Linked DNA regions of Homo sapiens: all the other regions are reported to be linked to region 2. The links are microRNA targets in miRTarBase. Many come from high-throughput screens and were not tested one by one. Region 2 holds a microRNA gene; each other region holds the end of a gene's coding sequence. Distances are from middle to middle.

What was found. The annotated mature microRNA hsa-miR-1301-3p reads UUGCAGCUGCCUGGGAGUGACUUC and lies in region 2 at 3,999-4,022, opposite strand. An mRNA with a match to its seed (bases 2 to 7 or 8) in the 3' UTR can be bound and repressed. Matches are read on the target gene's strand: a 7mer-m8 pairs with bases 2 to 8, a 7mer-A1 pairs with bases 2 to 7 and ends in A, and an 8mer does both.
Region 1: miRTarBase lists CHN1 as a target of hsa-miR-1301-3p. Seed matches in the 3' UTR shown: 7mer-m8 at 1,427-1,433.
Region 3: the mRNA of ATXN2L is a reported target of hsa-miR-1301-3p. The part of its 3' UTR that is shown has no 7-base or 8-base seed match.
Region 4: miRTarBase lists DCTD as a target of hsa-miR-1301-3p. The part of its 3' UTR that is shown has no 7-base or 8-base seed match.

Annotation. Positions count from the first base shown.
Region 1 is chr2:174,794,350-174,801,468 of GRCh38, reverse strand. CHN1 (chimerin 1) reads left to right here. Exons shown (of 13, transcript NM_001822.7): 13 at 1,182-2,660. The coding sequence ends at 1,353. Among named protein-coding and RNA genes, the nearest start is that of CHRNA1, 33 kb to the right of the region's middle. RefSeq lists enhancers at 4,151-5,012, 5,013-5,875.
Region 2 is chr2:25,324,653-25,331,771 of GRCh38, forward strand. MIR1301 (microRNA 1301) reads right to left here and starts at 4,069; the gene lies at 3,988-4,069. All of the region lies in intron 1 of DNMT3A (DNA methyltransferase 3 alpha), which reads right to left. RefSeq lists enhancers at 5,373-5,873, 5,874-6,374.
Region 3 is chr16:28,835,243-28,842,361 of GRCh38, reverse strand. It overlaps ATXN2L (ataxin 2 like), which reads right to left. Exons shown (of 22, transcript NM_007245.4): 20 at 6,963-7,084; 21 at 6,604-6,813; 22 at 5,130-6,429. The coding sequence ends at 6,097. Among named protein-coding and RNA genes, the nearest start is that of MIR4721, 5.2 kb to the left of the region's middle. RefSeq lists a silencer at 362-519.
Region 4 is chr4:182,885,468-182,892,586 of GRCh38, forward strand. It overlaps DCTD (dCMP deaminase), which reads right to left. Exons shown (of 6, transcript NM_001921.3): 6 at 4,624-6,010. The coding sequence ends at 5,932. Among named protein-coding and RNA genes, the nearest start is that of DCTD, 28 kb to the right of the region's middle.

The DNA.
Region 1 (7,119 bases), 150 Mb from region 2:
AGATATGCTAGAAATACCAATATTCTGCCAAGGACATGCACTAATTTTTGTGGAAAGATAGAGTTGTGGCTGTAAAGACACTTGCATAATAAAGCAAGAAGAAAGCAACTTGCAACTTGCAACTTGCAAGGCAGCTCACTTTTCCTATCTTCTTGCTCCAAAAAAAGCACTTCAAACTTGGTGACAGGATTTTCGATTATTGAATTATTGTTGCCAACACTGCAAACTGATGTAAAAAGTGGTGGAGTAAAGAAGTAAGGGATAAAGGGAGGAATGGAAAACGAAGTATTTCAGTTAATTGTGGTTTGATGTTTTCAGGCGATAGTCATGCAGCTTTACTCCCTACTTGGTCACCCTCGATCTCTATCAGTTGAAGCAAAGATTTCCAAATTACACGACCAAGTTTTAGTGGTTTTAGGTTTTCAAAGTATAAAACCAATCAGAAACAAAAATACGTATGTGGCCAAAGGCATGAGTTATATAAAAATGATATTTTAGTCACTCATGAATGTTTACATTTTTCCTCTTTAAGAGCACCATGAGTTAAAACCTTTGTTTAATGTGCTTACAACTTCGCTTATAAACTCAGGATTGCTTCCTGTTGGGATGTATTTAAGTGTTCCACACTAAAACAGAGGACTAACTCTCAAATCATATTTTCTGTGTTACTGTGCAGTGGTAAAAAGCATATAAACACATACCCTCCCTGACGATGGTGCCTACCCATTGCTTATTACTGTCGCTGCTGTTCTCTTCCTAGACACTTACTCAACTGTCTACTTGCAAAACTACTCCATAGCAAAGACAGCCAGAGTGAAGGGAGGGTGGGTGGATTAAATCAAGGTGACCCAGTTCCTTCTCAGCTATTTGCAAATGTAGGTTTAGAACTATAGGCTGTAGGTGGGCTGTGGCAGGAGGATCCATAGATAGAACTGAATCCATACAGTGCAGCACATTAACTCAGGCTTGAGCCTCAGTGATTACCACAAGTTTAAATTATCTCTTGACATAATTTACTTTAAGGAAAGTCAGTACTTTGAAATTACAGAGAAATAACCTAGTGGAAGAGTTGATAAGCGGACGCAAACTTTTATTGTGAATCTTGTTGTTTTAGTGTTCAAGCACAATGAAGAACATATGGCTTACACAAAGTCATTTATTCCTGTACTTGCATTTTTCAGAGTGACCCTCCACGAAAAGGAGAATCTTATGAATGCAGAGAACCTTGGAATCGTCTTTGGACCCACCCTTATGAGATCTCCAGAACTAGACGCCATGGCTGCATTGAATGATATACGGTATCAGAGACTGGTGGTGGAGCTGCTTATCAAAAACGAAGACATTTTATTTTAAATTTTTAATTTGAGGGGAAAAGAAATGTTTTACAGATGAAGGAATGTTTTATAGTAATTTAATTTGCTCCTGTAGCTGCATTATTTCTTGATTAGAGGTTTGGGCATATAACCAGATTAAAGTGAAGGAACTTTCTGTTGTTTTTGTAGCACCGCTCAGCTGTCTTGTAAAACAGTGAACACACGCTTTCTGGTTCTAGTAATCCTGGGTGTTTATCACGTTCAGAGAAACTCAAGCTATTGCATGATTAGCCCCCTATCTGGCAAGGAAACCCCATACAGAAGAAACAACAAACCTGCGCCTGCACCGCCTCTGCGTCCTGGGTAGTCTGTGCTTGTAATCCAGCATGTTTCACAGAGTAAGCCTGTTGTGACTTTGCTTTTGGGGTCTATGTCATTGGTTTCTGATGCTTGTACAAACACGCACACACAAATGGATAAAACAGCACCTCTGGCTGTTACATTACCATAAACCATATCACATGCCTACATTTTACAAATGATTTCTGGTTTCTCTTAGTTCTTCTCTAACATAGTACTTTCTTTCCAGCAAAAGCAAAATGTGTTTTCAGATTTGTTACTTTAATAAAGGTTATCCATACCAATAAAAAGTGTACAACACAGCATTTTCTGTTAAATTATTATTGGTTTTCAGTTGTAATTTGGTATTTTTTCTGGCATGCGTTTATTAATTTATTAAATTGGCTTTTAGAAATAAAAAATATTGATAGCTTACTTTTTTCTCATAAGAATATTCGGGAAAATGTGTTTGGCCATTTATTAAATACTGAGTACTTCTTCTGACCTCTTTTGTTTACTGTTAAAAGTGATAAGCTTCTAAAATAATCATTTAAAACTGCTTACAGTTAGAACAACCATTAATTCCATTTATTTTTCTTCTTATATTACTCTGGCAGAAATCTAGAAAATATTTTCTTGACATACTTTTTAATGAGAGGTTGGGCAGGAGTTCCTACCAGAGCTCTCAGAAGAAGAAAGAGGCTAACTAAAAAGAGTAACTTCTTCTAAACATTTGATTTGTCAAAAATATATGACATCAACATGCATTGAGCTGACAATGCTGCCTGAGAGATGAGCCCCAGAGGCCAACCTGGTGGCTGGAGAAGGGGTCTGCAGCTAGGGGCCAGGAGCCCAGATTCTGGGCCTGGTACTACCACTGGCCACCTGTGTGGCTTGGAGCCAACAACCCTCCAGAGTCTGTTTCTGTGCCTATCAGATGAACACCTTTCTAGAACGAAAGTTCCATCCTGTTTTCAAATTTTTAACAATAAAAGACACATGTTCAAACTTTGAAGATTATTCCAAAAATAATGGGAACCAATGAAAATATGGAGTGTTTTCATATTTTTGCCCCTAGGCTATAGTAGGAAATTCATAGTATGCTTTCATCAGTCTTGATATTGAGAAAAGTATGGTTTATTCAGTAGATATTCCATCTCAGCTCTCCTGTCAACCAGTCTCCTGTGAAGAACACCACTGCACTGAGCAACATCAGGTACATAGATTGATAATGCACAGAGATTTATATAGCATAGAATGTTTTTTTTTTTAATGGAGGCCACCAAAAGGCACTAAACACCAAGGCAGTGCTTTGGACACATCAAACACAGTTCGTATTTCTGAGAAATCTGATCAAAGAAATCTGTCCCTGGGTTAAGTAAACCAATTGGACTACTATGTGCTCATTGCTGAAGTCAGTTTTCTACAGAGTTTTACTTTTTTAAAAGAGAAATTCAGTTATAAAGGAGTATGCTTTATTAGAATGGATTCACTATTTTTTCCTGAGAAGAGAGATATTCAACTTTAGAGCAGGCACTTACTAGAATTAGAGGTATATTTGGAGCAGAAGGTCATAGTAAATAGGAAGCAGATGTTCAGAGAAAGTTCTGAGCAAGTCTTCAGACAAAGTTATTGCTTACTGGCTCTGAAGAATGTGCTTGGCATGTTTTTACACAGAAGGATGTGTGGTTCATACCCTCAGGATGTATAGATAGAAATAACAGCCACTTCATCTGTGAACATGCTTGGACTGTTGGGTGACACTTCCTTGAAGAAACAATTCCCAGTTGCCCAAGGAGGGTTTTGCTCAATAATTAACCAGAATCTTCTACACATATCTTTCTATGACCAGTGGGAGATTTCTTAAATCATGACTTTTTATGATGAGGCAGATGTTTCTATTTCTAACACAATCAGGAGTGAGAGAGGGAACCAATAAACCTCTCCACCATCACCCACGGATTTGGCAGCACTACAGATACTCTGCCCTGAATGCTAAGTGTCTACATCTTCTCAGTTTTCTATATGTCATTTAATTATTGCAAAACCAAAGACTTCCCTTTTACATTATTTTGTCTTTAAATGCCAGTTATACCAGCTGACCAGAAGAAGTAGTCCTTCGCTGAATTGAGATTTAAAACGTTTCTGTAATTGGAAGAATGGATATTTATCAAGATGTTTCTGGTTACTTGATGAGCTCAAATAGAGGCCTGCTGAATAAATTAGGTTCAGGGTTCCGATCATTCTTTTTTTTTTTAATTTCTTTTTGTTAGTTTTTTGTCTTTTATATCTTTTGTTTTGAGTTCTGATCATTTTAAATAAAATAACTCACAGGCACTGCCCCAAAGCTGATTATAGATTATGGTCAAGTCCACTAAAAGATCACAAAGTGTTTTTATAGCTTGATTTGCCCATAACAACTGCAAGACACTCACATTTGTCCATTAGAGCTGAGCCGAACTGGTAGTGCCCTTCGTGTATCTCATCACCATGCATCACATGCCCACTGAACATCCAGGTTGGTTCTGCCCCTTAGCTAGCATGCATTGTGGTAGAGGGGAATGCAAAGAAGTCTGGCATCAGCAAGGATCTGTCAGCCTAATTTTTAGAGATCTAGTTCTCACTTGCATTATATCTTAAAAAAAAAAAAAAAAATCTGCATCCCTTGTAGCATCTCTGCTACTCATTCCGTACACAGATCCTGTGTGCCAAGCACTGTGCTAGAACTTGGAACAAGATTGGTTCTGATTCTTGAGGAACTCATGGGATCCATTTGGACTAGTCACAGTTTAAAGTACTGTATGCCTCAGTGCTAGATGTCAATAGAAAGCTACCAGACAGCGTGGATGGTTTTGCGTTTCTTTGGGAAAAATATGAGTTCACAAGTCATACCCTTACAATTCCATTTGATACTTTGAAGTTGACCTTAAACATTCATTTAACCGATAAGGAAAACACAAATAAAATGACATCACACAGAGCCGGTGTAAGTCTGTTTGGAAAAATCAAAAGCCTAATGTTTAGCTGCCTGTGCCTTTGGGCGAGTGTCATCTGGAATGGGACACCACCACATGAAAGAGCTACAGTATCCTCTGCCATGGACTCACTAGTTCCTAACTTCCTGGCATCAGATGAGGATAGATGATGATGCTATCAGTTCCATTGCATTCTGGCATACTTACCTCATTTTAACCAATCCCATGCAGTTGATGCTCATTCTGAAACAAGGGATGGTCTCAACCTGACAGCTCAAAATCTCCCTGTGGCATATATATATTTGGTCTCTGTCCTGGCTCCTGGCCTAGAGCTCCTAAAACCCCTGGAATTTCCAGGGTGATAGGAGAGTCTTTTGTTATTTATAATGATCCTTTGTAAGTACACCAGACTATATGCTAATGAGGTGGCTTAGGCTGGGGCCCTTTGATAGCCTCACAAAGGTTATCTCTGGGCTGGCCATAGGAAAGACCAAGTGATTAGGGGCTTGGAACTTTCTCTCCATTGACCACCAGAAAGGGGAGGGAGAGGCCCAGAGATTAAGCTCTGTAACAAACAACTAGATTTGGTGAGCTTTCTGGTGGGTGAACACATGGAAGTGTCAGGAGGGGGCACACCCAGAGGGCATAGAAGCCCCCAACCCCTCTTTCCATACCTTGTCCTGTGCGTCTCTTCTATTGGGCTGTTCTGTAGTATCTTTCATAATCAACTGGTAAACATAAGCAAAGTATTTTCCTGAGTTCTGTGAACTGTTCTAGCCAATTAACAAACCAGGGGAGGAGGTTATAGGAACCCCTCATTCATAGCTCAGCACAAGTATGGGTGGTTCCCTGGGACTTGCAACTGGCATCTGAATTGGGGCAGTTTTGTGGAACTGAGTTTTTTAACTTGTAGGATCTGACACTAACTTGAGGTAGAGAGTGTCAGAACTGAATTGAATTGTAGGACACCTAGCTGGCGTCTGGAGAGTTAGAGAATTTGGTGTGGAAAAAACCCACACATCTGGTTTCAGAAGTTCTGAGTAAAAATATCCCACTCACCATTTATCTAAAACAGGCTGTGATCATCTTCACATTTCCCAAATAGTAATGAAGGAAAAAAACTTAAGTTGCTGTTTTCTCTTGGTTTTATATAATCAGGGAATTAATCCTTTAGCAATTTTAATGAAGGTTGTATTAATACTTTCATTACAAATTCAAACATTTGTTGGTTTCATCACTGTTCTGCCTTATTAAAGTCATTAGGTCTCTCAGCAAATGCTTAAATAATTTTTAAAGTATATTTCACTAGTTTTGTATCTCATACAAGGATACGACTCAATTGATATTTATACATATTGAAACCAAATCAAGAGAGAGCTAAGCTAAAAAATTATAATTCATCACTACATATTGCAAGGAAAATCCTGGTTTATGAGTTTCATTGTTCTCTACTGAAGAGATTATATTTTCATACAGTCATAGCATATTTCACAATGTAAATGTTTTCCTCTATTGCTTATTCAACTCAATAGCACAAAACACCACCAAGAGTTAAGTATAAGCGCCACGTGGCTGACCTAGTTTTTGGAGCTCTAGTGAACCCTTGGAAGTTTTGGGGGTTTTACAGTTTTTCAGATCCACTCAATTACATTGTAGCAGGAAACATGAGCATGTGAAGCTAGAAATCTTAGGATTGTTTTTTCTAATTCTGAAGCATAACCACCTAGCTGCCCATGCCACTGTGGTAAGACACAAAAAGCAGAGGAGGTCATGTTTTAGTGATTAAAATGACTCAGGAAAGGAAATGAGCAAAAAGGGCCTTCTAGAGGTAAAATACCATAAATTTGGAATGTTCTTAAAACACACCAGTCTTTGCTTGCCATTACCTCAAGCTTCGACCAGTTGGTTTCCTCTGATGTGTGTATAGGTGTAACTGGAGCACAGTCCTAGGCTTGTCCATGCAAAAAATATCCAGCCTGATGTTGGAAGCCTCTCTATATGAGTGAACATTTTCCTAAGACAGTTTTTTTTTCTTACCAATGAATATACATAGTAGGCAGGAATATTTTGTTCAAGTTCTTTAAAAACGGTATCCAAACTGTGAGAAGGTGATGACGTGGGCATATAAAAAAGATTAAGTTCAGGTCAGGTGTGGTGGCTCATGCCTCCCAACACTCTGGGAGGCCAAGGCAGGCAAATCTCTTGAGCTCAGGAGCTCAAGACCAGCCTGGGCAATATGGCGAGACCCCATCTCTACAAAAAATACAAAAATTAGCCAAGTATGGTGATGCACACCTGTAATCCCAGCTACTCAGGAGACTGAGGTGGGAGGATCGCTTGAGCCTGGGGGGCAGAGCTGCAGTAAGCCAAGATCACACTACTACACTCCAGCCTGGGCCACAGAGATCCTGTCTCAAAAATAACAATAATAATGTTAAGTTTAGCTACATCAGCAGCATTTCTGTCCTAAGACTCTAGAACCGGAAGAAGCC
Region 2 (7,119 bases):
CAGGAGAAAGTGGAGGAGACCTCCTAGACGGAGATGTCTATCTGTCAACTCTTCCCCCTCCTGTCACAACCTCTCTTGGTCATAAGACTGGGGATGGATAAGGAGGAGGGAGAGGGAGGGGGGTCTTGGTGCCATTTTCCAGTGAGATGGCCATCACCATTCCATTGCCCTGACTTTCAGAAACATTACTTGCACCCAAACTACCAGCTGTCCATAGAATACCAAAAGCCACTGGTGACAGGCCAGCAGTCCTGCCCTCTGCAAAGCTGATTTATCTGGCTCTAGAGTCACAATAAGACGGCTTGTGGCTCTCACACCACTCTCGAGGCCATGGCACCACCAGCACTGGCACCACCAGCACTGGCACCACCAGCAGGAGCACTTATGATCACACCAAACCTGCTGCCACTACGGCGGCCACATGGGAGTCTGAGTCAGACTGCTTTGCTCACACTAATGGTTGCCATGACACAGCCCCAAAAGTGAGCGGGGGGGGGATTTATACCTAAAATAGATGCTGTTAAGGAGCTGAAGTTGTTCTCAGGAGCCAAAATGAGCCAACACAGACTTCCGTAAGGCAGCACCGATTTCCAAGTGCTGCAAGCCAGGAGAAGCCCTGTCTAGGGGTCACACGTGCTGTGGGTCAGATGGGCTTCCCACGGCCTGGGAGTCAGGGGCACAGGGTGGCACAGAGTCCATGTGAGAATCAGACACATGGTCCTGGATGGGGTCTGGCAGTGACCAGCATGGGTCTGATTTTATCATCCACAGCGGAAGCGGCCCACGGTCATCTGCATGTTTCTCTACTTTTCCAACCTTCTCTACAGCATGGTCCACAGCTGCCAGCTCCAGAGCCTCTATCACTTAGTCCCCTGCGCGTGGCCCTGTTTCCCCACCCCACAACTCTAAAACCTTCTGGGGATGCTGACCTCGTCCTCGGGGGAGAGTGCTCCCACCAGGGACATATTATAATGCTTTCCCTGGGAGAGAAGACACACACACCCACTTGGCTTTCTCGAACTCCTTACGCCACTGAACTGACAGTGGAAAAAAGGAGTTATGCCACTGTCTGGAGTGATTGATCCTAGTTACCAAGGAGAAAACTGGATTGCTGATCAGCCACAGAGCCAAGCAAGACTGTGTCTGGAACCCAGCGAATTCTCTCAGGCACCTCTTAAGAACGTCCATGCCCAAAGGAAGGCTGAATGGAAAGTTATGGTAACAACAACAAAAGCGGGATAACTAAGGATTCAGGTCCTTTGGGAATGAGGGTTTGGGTTACTCCACCAAGTAAAAGAAGCATGACCTGCTAAGGCTCTGGCTGAGTGTGGAGGAAACACAGAATGGGATAAGAAGACAATGAAGCCAGGTAGCAAGTGTAAAGTGTAGCCTTGTGAACAAATGCAGAAACCAGGCCTCTAGTGGTTTTGCACATTTTCTATTAACTTGATATATATGTGTGTGTGTGTGTGTGTGTGTGTGTGTGTGTGTGTGTGTGTGGTGTGTTTGCAATATGGTAACCATTTTCTTCTTTTTTTCTCCTTCCCATTCTTTTCTATACAAGTTGTTGACAGTTAGCTTTATAATGTAGTCTTTAGGTAACAGAATATTCAGTGAGACTGTGACTGACTTTGAGAAGTTATTGTAGCCAGGGATTGGTAGAATGATGGTTGGGGCTCTCTGGGCAAAAGGGTGAGAATTTCATAAGAAGGATAACTATCTTGATAGGTAGACATCCAGTTGTTTGTTTTTGTATGGGAGTTCAGATGTTGTAGAAAGGTGCAAATGGAAGCTGTGCAGCCAAAGGGGTAAACTGTGCCAGTTATCAGTTTATTCGCCCATCATTGCCTGTGCTGTGAAGATGGAGCTGGGCCCTTTAACTACTTTTCCTTTGTCAGCTGGCACAACTGTGGAGGGCACTGAAGAGGCATTGAAGGAGGAGGTGGGTTTCCTTTCTAGACCCAGTGTGCTCTTGTTGGGTTCCTGCATTGTATACAACTTCTCTAGCAGCCAGATCTTGCTGCATGGGCGCTTCCCAGCATCAGGGTCTTGCCAGATATGAAGCTTCCCAGCACCCAGCTCCTGTGCTGCTGCAGCTTCTCCAGCATGCAGCTTTCCAGTGCCCAGCTCCTGCAGGAGTGCCAGGCTGTTGCAATGCAGACAGCTTCTCCAGCACCTGGCTCCAGCAACACGTCAGTCAGGAGTACCCAACAGCCAGGAGCTTCTCCCAGCACTCCCCTGGGAAAACGTAGCAGCGGTGTGCTTCCAGCAAGATACCTCCCACAAACAACTTTCCTTGGGACCCAAAAAGATGGATTTCCAGTAAATTCCAGAGGGTGGATTTCCAGCAAGTTCTGCCAACATGGCATTACAGAGACGTTGCCATCCAGGGAGCCATCGCCACACCCTCTCCATCAAGGTGTGGATCTCAACCCTGCGGGGCCTCTTCCTTGGGCACTCTGTGGCAACCCTAGAGGTAGGGGCTGTTCTCATATCTATTATTTTTGTATTCTTTGGAGTTATTTTTACTTCTTACTAGCCAATTCCTCATTATTCCAATCCAATTAGAGTTAATAATTCGTTATGTGAAACTTTCCTTGTTCCAATCACCATGTGGTTTCTGTCTTCTGAATGGACCCTGACTGATACAGTCACCCGCGGCCCCAAAGGGCTTTTTTCCATCCTCATGGCCCTTGAGCTCAATTCAACATCCTGGCCAGCTAATCACTCCCTGCTTCAAGCACTCACTCAACAGCCATTTCTTGAGTGCCATTGTGGAGCCGGGCCCTGGAGTGAAAGGAGACCCCTGCTTCTGGAGCTCACCAGCAACTGCCTTCTGTGTGTTCTCTCCCAGCCATGACTCCATCTGGCTCCTTGCTTCTGGGTCTCCAGCCTCAGATTCTGCAGCTTTGTCTCTGGGGCTGTCCGGGAGTCTTGATCCCACTTCTGCACGGTGGGTGCTCCTCAAAGGTCATGTTCTACCTTCAGCTTCTCTCTAAATGCTCTTCCTCTAAGACACCTGGGCATAAGTTAACATACGCCTCCTACTGCCAGGGGCTCCAGCTCTATTTATTTTCATCCCAACTGGATGACTTGCAGTCCCTAAAATCCTACTCTTCCAGAACATGCTTCTTTCAGAGCCGGCTCTATTTTCTGGTTTTTCCCTCTATGTGGAAGTAACATTCCCCTCCCTTCAGCTGCCTAAGTCCCAAACCCTGGAGAAAACTCAGGTCCCACCTTTCCCCTGGGTCCTCACATCCAGCAGGTACCTGGTCCTTGGGCTTCTCTCGTCCCCCTATTCCCTCCAGGCCCTTTGTACCTCTTGTGTCTGTGGCACAATAACCTGGTAGATGCCCTGGAGCGGGTCCACCTGCCTCTGGCATCTCTACCTCCCACCCCACCCTATCAGCAAGGATTGCCCACACATGGCTCCCTCTATGAAAACCTATGACACCTCATGACAATTTTAAAAAGTTGATTGTGAATGTACTAAAACCATCGAACTGTACACTTATATGGGTGAACTGTATGGAATGTGAATTATATCTTAAAGCTATTATTTTTAAAAATCCGGTGATGCCAAAGATTTGCACACGTGGTAAAATATACGCTCTGGCCTGGTCTCACCAGGGCTGGCTACAACGCAGCCTCCGCCCACTGCTCTGGCCGTGCCCCCACCTCTCCCAGCTGCATCATTCCAGGCCCGGCTGCTGTCCCGGAATGACACCCCTGGCTCCCACCCTCTCCCACAGGGCCCACTCAGCTCCTCTCTCCCAGTCCTTCAACCCAACATCTCTCCTCCCCCAAAACACCGTCCCCTTCTCCTCGACCACCCACCCAGGGGTCATTGAGTGTTCCATGCGTATATAGATGTGTCTGATTTCTCAAAGAGACGAGGTCAGAGTTCATGCGTTGTATCTTGCTGCCCGTCCCCCCCGCCCACAGCTTGTCCCCCGCAACCCCGTTCCGGGTGACCCTGGAGGCAGAGAGGACTGTGTGAAGTCACTCCCAGGCAGCTGCAACATCCCCAGCACAGTGCTGCGGTGCCTAGAGCGACCCCCCACAATCCCCATTCTAGGGGTCGCTTGGCAGAGCCCCCAAGGCACTGCGTCAGTGGAAAGGCTGTTTGCAGGAGCTCCGAGGGCAGAACATACACCTGCTGTGGGTCTGCAGGCTCACCTGCCCCAGATCCCCAAGGTGAAGGGGTTGGTGAGGGCCTAGGCTATCAGTGAACCACAGGAATCAGGGGGGCTGAGTCCTTGTCTGGCCTGTGACCACCCTCTCCCCACACCGTCCATGGCCACAGTCCCCCAACCCCACTTCCTAAACCAGCTCCCTCTTGGGTCAAAACCAGGAGGTCCCCCAAAGGGTCTTCAGGGCTTGGGAGCGGCTGTTGGAGCTCGTCCCCCACCACCCCAACCAATTCAGCAGGAAGGGAGCTCGCTGCTCTCAGATTTCCCACAGGGCCGCCTTTCTCCTCATCGTCTGTCCCAACAAAAACAAACCATTTGTGGAGGGGGCCGAGGGAGGGAGAAGAGCCCAGGGTTCTGAGCAGCACATCTCAGAACCATGGGCCCTGCCTCCAGCAGTCCCTGCCTCAAACCCTGGCTCTGTCACTGAGAGATTCGGGCCTCAGTTTCCCAAGTTGTAAAGCGGGGTGAGAAAGAGTCCCTATTTCATAAGTCTATTTTAAGATAGGAGGGAATCTGAGTCAAGTGTTTAACATAGGGCCTGGCACGTGGCAGGTACTCAATAAATGATCATTTAAAAATTATTATGTGCTTGATCAGAAAGAAAGGCAAGCCATATGTTCTTAGGAAACCTAGACTCTGGCTTCAGACCACACTTCAGAGTGGCTTGTGCTCACTCCTAGGAACGGCTGCTGTGCCAGGCTCCCCCTCCCAGCTGATGCCCCTAAGTCTCCAGCCCAGGCCCCGTGCCACTAGAATGGGGAATGTATTTACCAGAGAATGTCTACCTGCCACTGTGGCCTCAGGAGTCTCTCACAGTCATGCAGACCCCACACACACACACACACACACACACACACACACACACACAGACACACAGATACAAACACACATAGATGCACACACAGAGATATACCTAGACAAATGCAGAGATGACCCAGGCGCACAGGTTCACACACGCACACAGCCCCCCTCATGCTGCACACGCTGGGGCACCTGGAGCCAGAGGATGCTGGGCGGGCCTTCCGACACAGGCACACGCGTTGCACATTTCACCTACTGTATGGGCCAAAGAGGCATTTGGAAACCAGCTTGGGAACCTCATAACCATTCATAACATTGTTCTGAGAGAAAACACAAAACATTGCCCTATAAACAAACATTTGCAATAGAATTCCTCCAAAAGCTTGGAAATGCCTGTACTAGAAAACTAACAGAGCAAGAAGAGAAAAACCACATAAACTTGGTTTGCCTCTGCAAAATTAATACCAATTACAAAAACATTTATGTGAACTGCTTACCATTTACACCTAATTACCATGCAGCACAATTATGCATATCATTAAGGGTATGCCAGATTAATTATGCTGTACATTTCATTTGATTACAACGCCACACCCTGAGTTCATGTATGCCCCACTTCCAGGGGGCCAGTCCTGCAGCATGGCTGCTTGCACAGGTCTGCACAAACCAGAGAAACGTGGATTTCCACACTCGGATGGACCGCAGCCCCCACCCCACCCCCAGCCAGAGACAGCCCGACTCCCACCCGGCCTTCTTGGCAGCATCAACAAGAGCCCCGCTGCGAAGCCATCTTCCCAGCAGATCCTCCAGAATGCAGAGATGCTTCAAAGGTCTCCCCAGGGGTGTGGCTGCATGTCACAAGGCCACCATACAGCCCAAGGGCCATCATGTACGGCCCTCACAGAGGAAGCGGCCCTCTCTGCCATCTCCTGAGGTCTGGCTCGGAAAGCAGGGCAGCCTAGCCCATGTCCAGGCCAAGTCCTTCCCAAGCTCATCTCCCAGACCCACCAGGGCTCTGTGCCCCTATCCCCTGGCACACTGAGCCAGCTACAGGGCAAGGTCCCAGCTGTGGTCCCACTGGGTCCTGCAACATCCCCCCTGTCCCCCATGCCCTCTGCTCTCCCGGACAGCTCTGCACAGACCCTCCCTCCCCTTATTAAAAAGAAAACAGGAACTGACCCCCAATAACTCCCATTTAGCTCAGTAGATGCTCTTCAAATACACTGGGTGAACCAGGTTTGCAGGGAATAATTGGGAACAAGAGAGTCAATAGAACATGACGAATGGACCTTCCCAGGAAGGGGGAACTCAAAACTTGGAGTTTTGGAGGGAACAGGAGGAAACAGGCTTCTTGGGAGGCAAAGAACCAGAGGAAGTGCAGAAGCGAGGGAGGGAAGGAAAAAATATCCAGGTTTAGTCCAAGAAGCAATGCTCAAAACAAACAACACCAGCCTGTGAAGTTATGTCCATTTTACAGATGGTAAAACTGAGCCTAAGAAAGGTTGAGTGATCTTCCAATGACACGCAGCAAGGAGGTGGCAGGGGTGAGGTGAAACCATCATCTGTCCAGTCCCCAGCCTGGTGGCCCCAGCACGATGCCACACTGCTCCTGGCCTCTATCTAAATTCAATGATGCTGACATGGCTCACGTCATTTTTTGAGAAATTCTTTGGAAATAGCCTTCCACATTATCCTTCACATAACACACATAAGCCTCCTTTCTATTTTAGAGGAACAGTTTTTGCTTCTTTTCTGTTTGCTTTCCAAAAATGCTGTCCCCAGCTTGTCCCTCCTATCTCTCTCCGCAGACCTGCCTCTGAATGGAGAGTGACGGAAAGGCTGGACAGCTTGACATCAACTTCCAGCCCACCCAAAGATTCTCAGACGGTGATGATGCTCGCCGCAGGTCCTGGGTGGAGGGCCAGGGTCTAGGCCTTGCAGCTCATCTTTTGGGGAAATCACTGTGAAGTAGAGGCGCTAACTCATCAGCATTCCCAATGCAAGGGTGCGAGCACCTTCCTCAAAATCTTCCTTCAAACATCTGCAGGGGTCGTACCAGTTACAGACTGAAATGCACCTGCCTTTCTCATCCATCGCACAAGGCACCCCGCCTCCAGGCCTTATG
Region 3 (7,119 bases), not on the chromosome of region 2:
ATGCAGGGGTTAGGGGTGTCAGCCCTCCTCCATGCAGCCACAAATCCACATATAACTTGTTTTTGAGATGGGGCCAGCTTTGTGCAGTGGCAGTATCATAGCCAATGACTCCATGATGACTTGAAATATAATCAGCATTGGCAATTTTCGACGGTCTCTATGGGGAGGCTGAACAAAGGGAAAAAAAGAGATATAGGGTCTCACTGTCACCCAGGCTGGGTGCGGTGGCACCATCCTAGCTCACTGCAGCCTTGGACTCCTGGGCTCAACCTTGGTCTCCCCAACTGCTGGGATTAGAGGTGTAAGCTACCGTGTCTGGCTCCTCACATATAACTTGACTCCCCCAAAATGTAACTAGTAACCTGCTGCTGGCCAGAAGCCTCGCTGATAGCATACAAACACATACTTTGTGTGTTATATGTATTATATACTGTATTCTTAAAACTAGAGAGTGGCCGGGCGCGGTGGCTCACGCCTGTAATCCCAGCACTTTGGGAGATTGAGGTGGGTGGATCACAAGGTCAGGAGTTCGAGACCAGCCTGGCCAACATGGTGAAACCCTGTCTCTACTAAAAATACAAAAAAATTAGCCGGGTGTGGTGGCACATGCCTGTAATTCCAGCTACTCAGGAGGCTGAGGCAGGAGAATTGCTTGAATCCAGGAGGCGGAGGTTGCGGTGAGCTGAGATCGCGCCACTGCACTCCAGCCTGGGTGACAGAGCGAGACTCTATCTCAAAAAAAAACAAAAAAACAATAAAACTAGAGAAGGTGTTAAGAAAATCATAAGGAAAATATATTCACTATCAAGTGGAAGTGGATCATCATAAAGGCCCTCATTGTCTTCACGTTTCTTAGGAGGAGGCCAAAGGGGAGACAGGCAGACTCGGTGTAACTTGTATTTGAAAAAATTCACATGTAAGTGGATCTGTGCAGTTTGAACCCCAATCACTTAAGGGTCAACTTATTAAGTGTGTAATGTCTAAGAAAACTTGATTTAAAAATACTTGAGCCGAGGCCAGGCACGGTGGCTCACGCCTGTAATCCCAGCACTTTGGGAGGCCAAGGCAGGCAGATCACCTGAGGTCAGGAGTTCGAGACCAGCCTGGCCATTATGATGAAACCCCGTCTCTACTAAAAATACAAAAATTAGCCAGGCGTAGTGGCAGGCGCCTGTAATTCCAGCTACTTGGGAGGCTGAGGCAGGAGAATCGCTTGAACCTGGGAGGCAGAGGTTGCAGTGAGCCAAGATCACACCATTGCACTCCAGACTGGGCAACAGAGTAAGACTCCGTCTCAAAAAAAAAAATTAGCCAGGCATGGTGGCTTGCGCTTGTAGTCTCAGCTACTCAGGAGGCTGAGGCACAAGAATCACTTGAACCCGAGAGGCAGAGGATGCAGTGAGCCGAGATTGCGCCACTGCACTCCAGCCTGGGCGACAGAGTGAGACTCTGTCTCAAAAGAAAAGAAAAAGGCCGGTCGTGGTGGCTCATGCCTGTAATCCCAGCACTTTGGGAGGCCGAGGCAGGCGGATCCCTTGAGCCCAGGAGTTCCAGAGCAGCCTGAGCAACATAGGGAGACTCTGTTTCTATATAAAAAAGAAAAAATAGCCAGGCGCGGTGGCTCACGCCTGTAATCCCAGCATTTCGGGAGGCCGAGGCGGGTGGATCATGAGGTCAGAGTTCAAGACCAGCCTGGCCAAGATGGTGAAACCCCGTCTCTACTAAAAATAAAATTAGCCGGGCGTGGTGGCAGGCACCTGTAATCCCAGCTACTTGGGAGGCTGAGGCAGGAGAATCACTTGAACCAGGGAGGCGGAGGTTGCAGTGAGCCGAGATTGCGCCAATGCACTCCAGCCTGGGCAACACAGTGAGACTCCTTCTCAAAAAAAAAAAAAAAAAAAAGGAAAGAAAAAATAAATTTAAAAAAAGAAAGAAAAAGGCCACTTCTCTAATATGCAGGGAATAAACTATGAGTGAATTTCAAAAACTTGGGAGTGATGACTGGCAAGGATGCCGACACCAAGCAAAGCAAGGCTCGGCAGAGGTTAACAGGCACCCCTATCACAAATGCATCCTGACAAATGAATACACACCCAGGATGGCTAAGATGAGCTCCCAGAAGGGAGGGCTCTTGGGCCCAACTTAAGAGCTGTTTTGAGAAAATGCAAAACCTGATTTTTGACTCCAGAACAGAGGCAAACTAAGGGAAGTGGGTGAGAGAAGAGGAAGAGGGAAGAACTTTGCAAAAAGAAGTCCAATGACAGGGCAGATTTGTCTTCTCCTCAGTGCTCAAGGCAAGGCTGACGGGCTGCCAAGAGGAATTTCTGGCTGGCTGAAGGCTAAGTTCCCTTCCAACTTTGAGATTTCTGCTCAAAGATGGTAAACATACAGTAGTCTCTGCCCTTATCCCTGGTTTCAGTTATCCACTGTCAACACTGGTCTGATTATTTCTGGAATTTTTTTTTTTTTTTTTTTGAGACAGTGTCTGTCACCCAGGCTGGAGTACCGTGGCACGATCTCGGCCCACTGCAACCTCTGCATCCCGGGTTCAAGTGATTCTCCTGCCTCAGCCTTCAAGTAGCTGGGATTACAGGCACCCACCACCACACCTGGCTAACTTGTATTTTTAGTAGAGATGGCATCTCACCATGTTGGCCAACCTGATCTCGAACTCCCGACCTCAAATAATCCACCTTCCTCGGCCTCCCAAAGTATGGGATTACAGGCGTGAACCACCGCACCCAGCTGGAATTTTCTTTTTTTTTTTTTTTTTTTCCTGAGACAGAGTCTCGCTCTGTCGCCAGGCCAGAGTGCAGTGGCACGATCTCTGCTCACTGCAACCTCCACCTCCCGGGCTCAAGCCATTCTCCTGTCTCAGCCTCCCAAGTAGCTGGGCCGACAGGGATGCGCCACTATGCCCAGCTAATTTTTGTATTTTTAGTAGGCAGGGTTTCACCATGTTGGCCAGGATGGTGTCGATCTCTTGACCTCATGATCCACCCACCTCAGCCTCCCAAAGTGCTAGGATTACAGGTGTGAGCCACCGCACCTGGCCTAGAATTTTCTATTTAACAGTTCAGATTTTAAGTTGAGCACCATTCTGAGTAGTATGATGAAATCTTTTGCCATCCTGCTCCATCCATCCTGTCAGGACGTGAACCATCCCTTTGCCTGTTAGTCACTTTAGTAGCCGTGCTGGTTATCAGATTGACCGTTACAGCACTCCAATGATTGTGTTCAAGTAGCCCTGATTTACTCAGTGATGGCCCCGAAGCACAAGAGTATTGTGCCTAATTTAGAAACTAAACCTCATCATAGCTATAGGAAAAAACATAGTATACATAAGGTTTGGTACTATGGGCATCCACTGGGGATCTCAGATCACATCCCCCCCAGATGCGGGCGGACTGCTGTACAATCTGCAGTCCTTCCAGAAAGCATCAAAATGACTACTCAGCTGGGTGTGGTGGCTCACACCTGTAATCCCCAGCACTTTGGGAGGCCAAGGCAGAACTGCTTGAGCCCAGGAGTTCAAGACCAGCCTGGCCAACATAATGGGACTCTGTCTCTTAAAAAAAAAAAAAAAATTGAAAGATTACCCAGTAATACTTGCCATATTTCATAGTAGATACCTGTCTCTCCATCTACACTTCAAATATCCTGAGCCCAGCTGAAGCCTTGCAGCTCCTGCACCACCCCACATCTACCTGCTGAGTGCTCTTGGGACTCCAACCCCGCCCATTTTTAGCATCCAAGTGGCTACCACATAAAGTCCTTTTTTTTTTTTTTTTTTTTAACCTCTTTAATAACCCCTTCTCTCCACCCCACCATGTACACCTATTACCAAGTTCCAAATCTGCATATGCTGGGATTCTTCCCCAATACTGTAGCCTTCACTCTTCCTGTCCTGGTCTCAGCCAGCTTTCTCTGGCTTTGGTGAGAGCTGAAACACCCGTCTACCACTGAGCACCAGCCACTTCCTTAAAATCCTGGAAAGGTGAAATCACCTCCATTTTAGGCAAGGAAACCAAGGTCAAGTCTCCGAGAGAATTCTCAACCTCCTTGAAAAACTACCTCCTCTGGAGCCTGCTGTCATTTCCACATCCCATGCTTCAATCTTCTTGTCCCACCCATAATGCCTAATTTTGCTCTTGCTCCCCAGTAAGCCCAGTTCCCAACCAATCCTCTCCCCTCTTCTCCCACTAACAGCTTCACCTTTACAGCTCTCATCCACAGTCAGCTGCACATCCATCAGGATTTTAATTCCAATGACCATAAACATTCACCCTTCAACATAAAGAGGTGTATGTAATTCATGAGATACTCATATTAGAAATGAAACTTTGAATCACACCTTGAGATGAAGCCAAGTTCAAGATGAGAAAATAGTCACTAGACAGCTGGGTGAGCTATCTATGTAGCAGTTCCAGAGCCAGTCAGGGACAGCATCCTTGGGAACTGTGCCACTGCTGTCCCATCCTGGGAAGCGGACTCCCATCTCACGTGCTTTTAGCCATCCGGTCATCCAGAACCTCAGTCATCAACTACACAACTTCACATGAAGTCTGGAACCCACCTTCAAATGCATGGCACAGGATCCCGATCTGGCTCCCCATCATCCTAGATTTCAAAAACTGGCCACCATTGGTGTGCAATGGAGTGATCTCAGCTCACTGCAACCTCCGCTTCCTGGGTTTAAGTGATTCTCCTGCCTCAGCCTCCCAGGTAGCTGGGATTACAGGCATGTCCCACCACGCCAGGCTAATTTTTGTATTTTTAGTAGAGACAGGGTTTCACCCGAGTTCAAGTGATTCTCCTGCCTCAGCCTCCCAAGTAGCTGGAATTACAGGCATGTCCCACCACATCTGGCTAATTTTTGTATTTTTAGTACAGATGGGGTTTCACCAAGTTGGCCAGGATGGTCTCCATCTCTTGACCTGGTGATCTGCCCACCTCAGCCTCCCAAAGTGCTGGGATTACAGGCGTGAGCCACCATGGCTGGCCACTGGACACGATTTTTACATGGAGGTGAAGGAACAGGTCACAATGCAGCACCTATCAATGCCACAAAAGACTGACAGCTGTCACCCCACTCTAGTCTCCAAGGAGGAAACTCCAGGCAGGTTAAGTTAGTTTAAAATTTTATTTTTTTTATTTATTTTTTAATATTTTTATGTAATAAAAAGTAAAAGTCCTTGTCCAGCCATCCTCGTGGGGCATCTGTCTGTCTCTCACACAGGTCACTCAAGTTAATGGGAAAGAAAGAACAGGGGGCCCAAGTCTGAAGTTATAAATAATAGAAAATAAAAGATCTTCCGTCTCCAGCGGGGGAATAGATGAGAGGATGGGAGGGCAAGACTGGGTGGGGACGGGCAGGGGCAGAGCAGGAACCCCCCACCCCTGCTGGACCCTGGCCCTGCCCTCTGTGAGGCCCCTCCCATTCAAGGTGCTTGGCAGGAATTCCCCAGCTCCCCTGGGGAACGGGGGGATGGGGGGCTGGGAGTGGTCCGAGCTGCTGGGGGAAGAGACATAGATCACTCTTCCCTCCACTCATGGAGGTCTCAGGTCGCGGCCAGGACAATCTTCAGTTCCCCGGGGGGTGGAAGGGGAGCTGCTGGGAGGGATGAGATTGAACTGGTTGGAGGGGAAAGAGAAGAGAGCAGGAGCATTAGAACCCAAGCAGCTGTCCCTTCCTCCAATGCCGTCCAGTGGGGGCGTGGGGGTGTGTCTGGGAAGGAGCGGCCTCCTCAAGGTGTCTCGGGGGCTGTCAGAAGCACAGGTCAATCGCTGTTTCCCAGTAAGCCAGAGCCCTCACTCATGTGCCCAGCTCAGCCCCCCACACCCCAGTCTGGCCCTGTCTGCTGCACTGACCTTACCTCGGCTAAGTCAGGAGACAGTCGGGGTCACTGAGAGCTGGGGAGGCAGTGGGGAGGGGGGCTGCTGGATCACAACTGAGCGAGGACGGAGGGAAGCAAAGGACAGAGCCAGGAGCAAGCCCCTGGCGGCGGCGACTGTGGCTTCTGCCCACCCTACATACTTCACAGACAGGTGCAGGTCGGCGGGCGCCCTGTGGGACAGCCCTGCCTCCAAGACCCCTCACTCCCCACCCAGAACCCGTGCATCCTGCCCCACCTGCAGCCCCTCAGCTCTTCCATGCCAAATTCCCCCAGCTAATGAGAACTCACGAATCCTGTCATCGGCTCCTCCTGGAAATCCAGGCGCCTGGCCAGGCTGCTCACCTTGGGGGTGTCCGATGTAGGGGTAGGGTGAGGGTGTGGAAGCTGAGAGTGCAGGCACCCCACTCTGGGGCACCGCGCCTTGGGGGGGCCCCCCATGACTCTGGGGTGGGTGCAGCAGCATCACCTGGGGCGGGTGGGGAGCCCCAGGGTGAGGGGGCGGGGCTGCTGTGATTCCAGTTTGGACATGGGCCTGTGGAAAACAAAAAAGTAGCCGGGAAGACCACAGAATCCTGAAACAGACTCTGAGAGCCAGAGTTAGGGAGCACTATGGCAAGGGTGGCACCAGGGACTTGGCAATGGGATGGTCCCCATGGCAGACGGGCCCTGGCAAACAGACCCAGAAGTGGGACAGCTGGGCTCTTACCTGGGTAACATGGGCCATGTTGGTGAAGCCGTGGGGCAGCTGCTGGTGGTGGATGGCATACACAGCGGCTGGCTGGGGGAAGCTGCTCTGAGGGGACTGGGCAGAAGGTCCCGGTGGCAGAGAGGGCGGCGTGCCTGTCAGGGCCCCTGGGTGGTACAGATTCTGCTGTGGCTGTCCACTGCCCAAGTGTGGGGCCTGCCCCGCCTGATGCTGCTGGGGAGGGGAAGGTTGAGTGCCACACAGGCCAGCAACTCGCTGGCCCCCAGTCCTCGCCACTCAGAAATGACCCCTAGCTCTATCCCTTCTTCTGGCCACCCATTCCTGCACCAGGACCACTCAGCACCCCCCATGGCAGGCACCTGGACAGGACTGGGGGCCGCATGCTGGGACTGCGGCTGGCTTCCAGTAGGCGTGGTAGCCGGCTGCGGCTGGTGGGCATGGAGCTGTGTGGCATGGTGTGGGTAGGACTGGTGAACAGTGGCTGCAGCAGGAAAGAGGGAGAACCAGTGCTGAGCA
Region 4 (7,119 bases), not on the chromosome of region 2:
TGGACCAGCTGACCCAACTCCAGCAAATGCTTACCACCGTACTTGTTATGTGAGGAAAAATATGCTACTTGTTTAGTCACTGAGAGTCAGGGGCCTGTTACTTACAGCTACATGCATTACTAATGCCTACTTATTCAGAGGCTGGGGAAAGGCAGAATAAATCAAAAGGCTGCACACCATGCCCACCCCTGCAGAGGAAGCAATTCCAGAACAGAATGCCCATTTAAAACCTGGACCAAATGGCATGTTTAAGTTTCTAACAGTTTTCATTAACAAAAGTTAACATACAGAACTCCTACAACAGAAAGCATTCAACAGTGATTTAAGACCTGGAAAGGTCAAGAAATCCACTAATCGGATGGGTTTCAGTGGAAACATCGTCTCTGGGTGTTCTGCCAAGAGTGTCTGTTATTGCCAAATTCCTCATTCAAACCCATATATAAGAATGCTTTAACTGAAACGCAGAAGTCAAAAATAAGACATTTAAACAGTAATCTCCTGTCTCTCTTAAAGATAAATGTGCCCATTAGCCCTGGCTGCTAACAGGAAGATTTCTTTCTCTTACATTCCAGATGACAATTTTTTTCAAGCCATTCACAAAGAAATCAGCATGGAAAAAATAATTTAGGAGGTTGGCTCCTGCTCAGCTACCTCACTGAATTAAAGTGCAATCAAGTTTATAACTTTTAAGTGGAAATATTAAAAATGTGTATGAAGCCCCTCTGCATAGGGTCCCGTGCAGACATGGAGAGAAATGGTAGCCAGGCACCAAGATACACAGGATGCCACATGCGCTCTGTGGAGTTTCCAACCTCGTTAGAGCAGGACAAGATACATATGAAAAGTTAAATGACATGTTTCAGTAACAGTTCTAGACAGTAGAAGAGATATCATAAAACAGTACACGATTCATTGCCAGAAAGACAGTTGCTGACAATAACTGCTGCAGGATTTCAAAGAAGAAAAAATCACTTCAAGCTCAGGAAGGTCTGGGGAGACTTTACAGAGAGGGCGGGATCCAACTCAGTGTTGAAACATGCATGGAAACTGTGGATGGTCAAAGGGAGCACAGGAAGAGGCTCTTAAAAATGCTGGGTTTAGGCCATGCAAAGTGGCTCACGCCTGCAATCCCAGCGCTTTGGGAGGCCAAAGCAGGAGGATCACATGAGCCCAGGAGTTTGAGACCAGCTTGGGCAACACAGTGAGATCCCGTCTCTACAAAAAATAAAAAATAAATAACAATTAGCCAGGGAATTAGTGTGGAGATGCATGTCCATAGTTCCTGCTACTTGGGAGGCTGAGGTGGGTGGATCACTTGAGCCCAGGAGGTTGAGGCTGCAGTGAGATATGATCACGCCACTGCCCTCTAGCCTGAGCGACAGAGTGAGACCCTGTTTCAAAAAAAAGAAGGAAAAAAAATGTTGATTTTTAAAAAAGAAAAATCCTTCAAGGTAGGTGACTGGTGCAGGGAGGAAGGCCGCTGGGTGGCTGAGGCAGACGGGGCCAGGTTGGCGAGGCACACTGCACATTCAGGAAAGGATGGCTGCAGAAGATGGGAGCGGCCCAGGTGTCCATTGGTGCGTGAATGGCTAAACAAAAGGCAGTATGTGAACACAATGGGCGATTCTTCGGCCTTCAGATGGAAGGAAATCCTGACACAGGCTACAACCTGGATGTACCTTGAAGACATGATGCTAAGTAGCCAGTCAAAAAGAGAAAATTCTGTACGATTCCACTTATATGAGGTACTGAGAGTGGTGAAATTCATACAGAAGGTAGAATGGTGGTTGTCATTTCTGGGAAGGGGGAAGACCGAATTACTGTACAATGGGTATGGAGATTCAGTTTTGCAAGATGCAGAGCTCTGGAGATGGATGGTGGTGATGGCTGCACAACACGCATGTAATTAATACCACTGATCTTAAAAATGGCTAAGAATGGCAGCAGCCAAGCGAAGTTGTAAAGTGGGCTCCAGAGAAGAGATTGGCAGTTGGCTACCAAAAATAAGGGCAATACCTTTCTTCAGGCCCCAGGCCTGAGACCCTCGGGCTCCACACCCGAGCGGTGAGCAGACGGTATGCTTTTCTTTCATCAACAGAGAACCCTTCCCCTGATTTTCTTGGGAAATACTGAACTCATTTTAATTTAATGAAGGACTTGTAGAATTTTTTTTTTTTTTTTTGAGACAGAGTTTTGCTCTTGTTGCTCAGGCTAGAGTGCAATGGCGCGATCTTGGCTCACCGCAACCTCCACCTCCCGGGTTCAAGCAATTCTCCTGCCTCAGTCTCCTGAGTAGCTGGGATTACAGGCACACGACACCACACCTGGCTAATTTTGTGTTTTTAGTAGAGGCAGGGTTTCTCCATGTTGGTCAGGCGGGTCACGAACTCCCAACCTCAGGTGATCCGCCTGCCTCAGCCTCCCAAAGTGCTGGGATTACAAGTGCGAGCCACCACACCCGGCCAGGACTTGTAGAATTTTTTAAAGTCTTCGGCCTTGGAATCAGGGTAAGAACCCAGCTCCTGCGGACTTCGTGTCTGGTCCCTGCCCTCTCCCCAGGGTCTTACTCCAATGGATACAGACACAAAATAATAGACAACCCAATCACACAGAAAATAAAGTACAGGTGGCACCTGCACGGCTCAGGGATGCGGGTGGCAAGTTTGGGCTTCATCTAAGGAACTTGTCTAATATCTAGCTATCCACTCTGTTCTAACTCTCACCCAAGAGCCATCAGAGAACCCAATACCTGGTAGGTACTCAGTAACTATTTGAGATTCATATACCCTCACGATGAAATGGCTTTAGATTCTTCCAACAGTTCCGAAATAAAAGTCGAGCTAGCTAAAGGTATCTCCAGAACAATTCTGGGGCACCCTGCTCTAAATGTGACTCCTGGGCCCAGGGTTATTTTGCCGGCACCTCTGCAGCCAGTAATCCATAACTCTAGTCATCACGGTTCCCTGACAAGAGAGCTTGCAAAGCACCCCCACCTTGAGTTCTGGTCCTTCCCTGGAGCTTTAGACAGGCTTCCTGGCTAATGATTTGTAGAAACTACCATTTTTAGAGTGGCTTTACTTTAACAACAACAACAAAAGTGAACTATAAATATTAAAACTTCTTATCAGCCTCGCCAATGAGAAAACTCCCTCCCTGCATTCCTCAGGCCCTTTTGCAACAACCTAAATATTTTTAATCCTCAGGTAGATACAGACATTGGAAGATCAAAAATTACACCAGGGCCACAGGAACTTCAGCTCACCGGGCTTGCAAGCCTACATTTGTATTCATGAGCTCAGCTTGTATGCTTGTTCTCTTATTTTGCTTCATTTTTAATTTAGGAAAAGATGGCTAATATATTAGATCACTTTCACTGCTGGGTCTTGTCAGGCTTCAGAAGTCTTTAAGGACAGACTGCTAAAAGAGTAAAAGGGAAGAAAGCAGAAAATGTGTCAGGGAAATGGAGTTCCTATCATTTCACTCACAAATTCTGCCTTTTAAATGTAGTCCTTCTACCAACGGTTCAGTGAAAGATGGTTTCCTTATTGTCATTTATTAGCCATGACAGGCAGCAACATTGGCTCAGATACAGTCTCCCTTCACCACAATTATCTAGTAATGCCTGCGAGGCAAAAGACTGCACAAAACTCCCTCCTTCTGGAAAGCTTCTCCCCAAGGCACCAGTTCAAAGCAAACCTCTATTAACTGGAACATGAACATCTGCAGAATTCTCTGGATAGGACAATTCTACTATTCTTATAGTGATCCTAGAAACGAAGACATAATCACTCACACTCCAGTCACCAGGAGACCAGGGTCGGTTCATAGGTGGAAGCATCACAACCCCCCAGCGACAGCATCTGCCCCCAAATAAACACCCACAACTGACCTCAGTACCAGGACTCCCCTTTTAGCAAGGACCCTTCCTGTCAACCTCCCCTCAAAGACAGAAAAAGAAAAAAGTCAATTTTTTTTCACTGAAACTGAATGTAACAACCAGACAAGATATAAGATAGTATCAAAATTACATAAATTAGATGCCCTACTGGCTTATCAGCCCCTAGACATATTTATCAATGTGATGTGATGAAAATGACACACTCCATCCTAACAGGACTCACAACTCTTGTGACTTGCGGCAATAGAGAAATCTCTAATTTTCTACCTTTAAGTCTACTGATTCTTTTTTCCACATACCTTTTGTTTTATGTATTTTGGAGCAAACACAGGGCGAGGAGTTTGGAGGAGAAAAGAGAAGGAAATTTAGGAGAGAAGAGAAGAGAGACTTGGAAAGAGGATAAGGTGAGAAGTCAGCAAAGGGCAGAACTCAGGACTGAAGCCTTCCGGGAGGACAGAGGCCTGGGCCCTACCAGATAGATGGCCACACCTGGGACCAGGGGCAGGGTACACAGGAGAGAGCGTAGGGCTAGCGGCTGCCTTCGCATTTTACATAAATCTGATCCATAAAGCAGCCCCAGACATCAACCCTGGGGAACGCACACAGCTTGGGCATCTCAAATTATTCTTTGAGCATTAAAACATATGTAATATGCTTCGGAGACAATACAGAAAGGACAGGAGCAGAAAATTAAGCATATAATTATAATAACATAAAAATGTACATGCTTTGGTAGGGTAGATTTTAATAAGATTTTAATAATATTGGTAAGGAGCCAAATTACAGAATACCCTAGAATGTGGAATACAAAATCTCAGAGACAAAATAAAAACTCATGAAAATATAAGAGCACTTTAAAAAGGTAATAATCTTTAGGATAAAGAAAGCCTTTTCTCAACACAGGTACTGAGCATGTTTAATAAAAATTAAATGAGATTAAAGAGAAGGGGCACAGCCACACGCTCCCCGCCCCGCGGTGATTAGGAAGGTGATGCTTGTGTAGGTGAAAGCATGGAGCCAGGGCACAGAAGAGCTCCGAACACCAACAGTGCTGCAGTAAGCTGTCTCCACGTGGGTGGAATTTCTCACAATCCACTCACGGGATAGGAATTAATTTTCTCTCCAGTTGCAGAGGGGCCTTGTACATGAACTGCGTTGGCATGCGGAGGAGGGGCAACACATCCATGTTGGGGACCCCTCCCATCCACAGCCCCAGCTGCCACCACGGCAGGGCATGGGCTTTGGGGGCAACAAGGAGAGACAGGCTGTCTCCTCTAGGAACAACTCATTATTCAGCTAAACGAAATGGAAGAGCTCCATGTGACCAACAAACCCAAATTGAGCCAAAACAACAGGCGTCCCCACCCCCCAGAGGGATAATGTGCCACCACCCTGTGTGCAGTGGGAGAGCAGGAATGGAGGAAATATTCCTGGTTCAGTTACACTCCTCGTCTGTCAGGACAGATGTGCCACCCTATCTCGGATTCCGGGAGGGTGGCTGGGGGTTTCCCTCAACTCTGCAGCAAACACTTCAATGCTACTGTCATTTGAGGCCTAATTTTCTTCCAAGGGCACTATATGCCATGCTTCACTTGGGCCAGATGTTCAGATCAGTGTGTCTGCTCGTCCCCATTAAGAACACAACCACAATTATTTATTTGTCCTTCCAGCACATGTAGCAGTGAAGAGAGGCTGCCGGATCGCAGCAGATGACAGACAGCTGATGCTCCTCTGAAGAGCCACCAGCATCCCAGCCAGCCAGGACACAAGAAGGGGAGGCACTCTCGTTCTAGCCCTGTGCACCAGGCCACCACAGGCTCCCCTATTTTAAACCCTAAAGCAATAGTTCAAACACATGTAGATTCCATGTGACAAGAGAGACAGTAAGGAAGATTTGAGGCTTTATATTCTTTAGATGCCTACTTTTGCCATACTGGCTAGTAAGAAGTTATGTGTAACTTCAAGATGAAAGGCATTAGCAACCTCTTAGAAGACGATAATCCCAATCTTCTGGAGATTGAATGAGATGTAACTCACTGAAGCTTTTGACTCGGTCTGCTGTTAATTGAATCAAAGTCAATGACAATCTTGCTGCACTTCGGTATGAATTTCCTAAAAATAAAAACAAAATACAATTATTATCTGGTGAGTAGTGAAAGCAATTTGTTTACTTTGGCTTAACTCATATTTTCTGTGCAGAGAAAAATATGTCCTGGGATTCACTTGCTATTTTCTCTCTATAGGAGCCAATTATAGTGCACCATACCAAGAGAAACACAGAGCAGAAAAGACTAAGACAAAAAAAGATGCATGGGGTGGTGTGGTTTGTATGTTTTCAGCTCTCTGAGTTCACGAATTATTGGGGAGTCAAAGGATTTCTAACAAGTCAGCTGCACAACATGATATCCGATTACTAGTTTTCCCATCAGATTTATCTTATTTTCTAGAAAAATTTCTGCAGCCAACTTGGAGTCTCTCTAATGCAAAAAAATAGTAAATTTTCTTTTGCCGCTTATATATAGCAAAAAACGACTACCTTTAGTGAGGAGTAATTTTTCAAATTACATTCTAAAAATGCAAACATAAACCAACTTTTTTTTTTTTTTTTTTGCTCATTAACTTTTCACTTGTTCCTCATTTCTTCTACAACAATTAAAAAGAAGACATTTGGGAACAAAACAAATTCTTTTAAGAATCACTGAACAAGAGAGTATACAAATAATTTGAATTTAAAGTCTCAGAAGGCACCACGGTTGAGTTCATGAGATACACTGAGCTGTATCCCTAATGACCAGCACAAGGGGCCAGGGCACGTCACCTATGACCATGGTCCCACTGCTGCTGAACGCCAATACCATGAAGCGCTGGAAAACTTTACAGTCCCAAAGGAATTTTCTGCCATGAATCAAAGGTAGTTGAACTTACTTGCAAGTAAAATATAGCTCACAACCATTTCTTAGCAAAGATAATCATAAAAATCTGTAAGACTTCAAATCTCAATGCAAAATGTTGCTGTAAAAAGAATCCCCAGGTGGCTCACACCTGTAATCCCAGCACTTTGGGAGGCTGAGGCAGGCAGCTCATGAGGTCATCCTGGCCAACATGGTGAAACCCCGTCTCTACTGAAAGTACAAAAAAATTAGCTGGGTGTGGCAGGGGAGGCTGAGGCAGGAGAACCGCTTGAACCTGAGAAGCGGAGGTTGCAGTGAGCCAGGATCGCA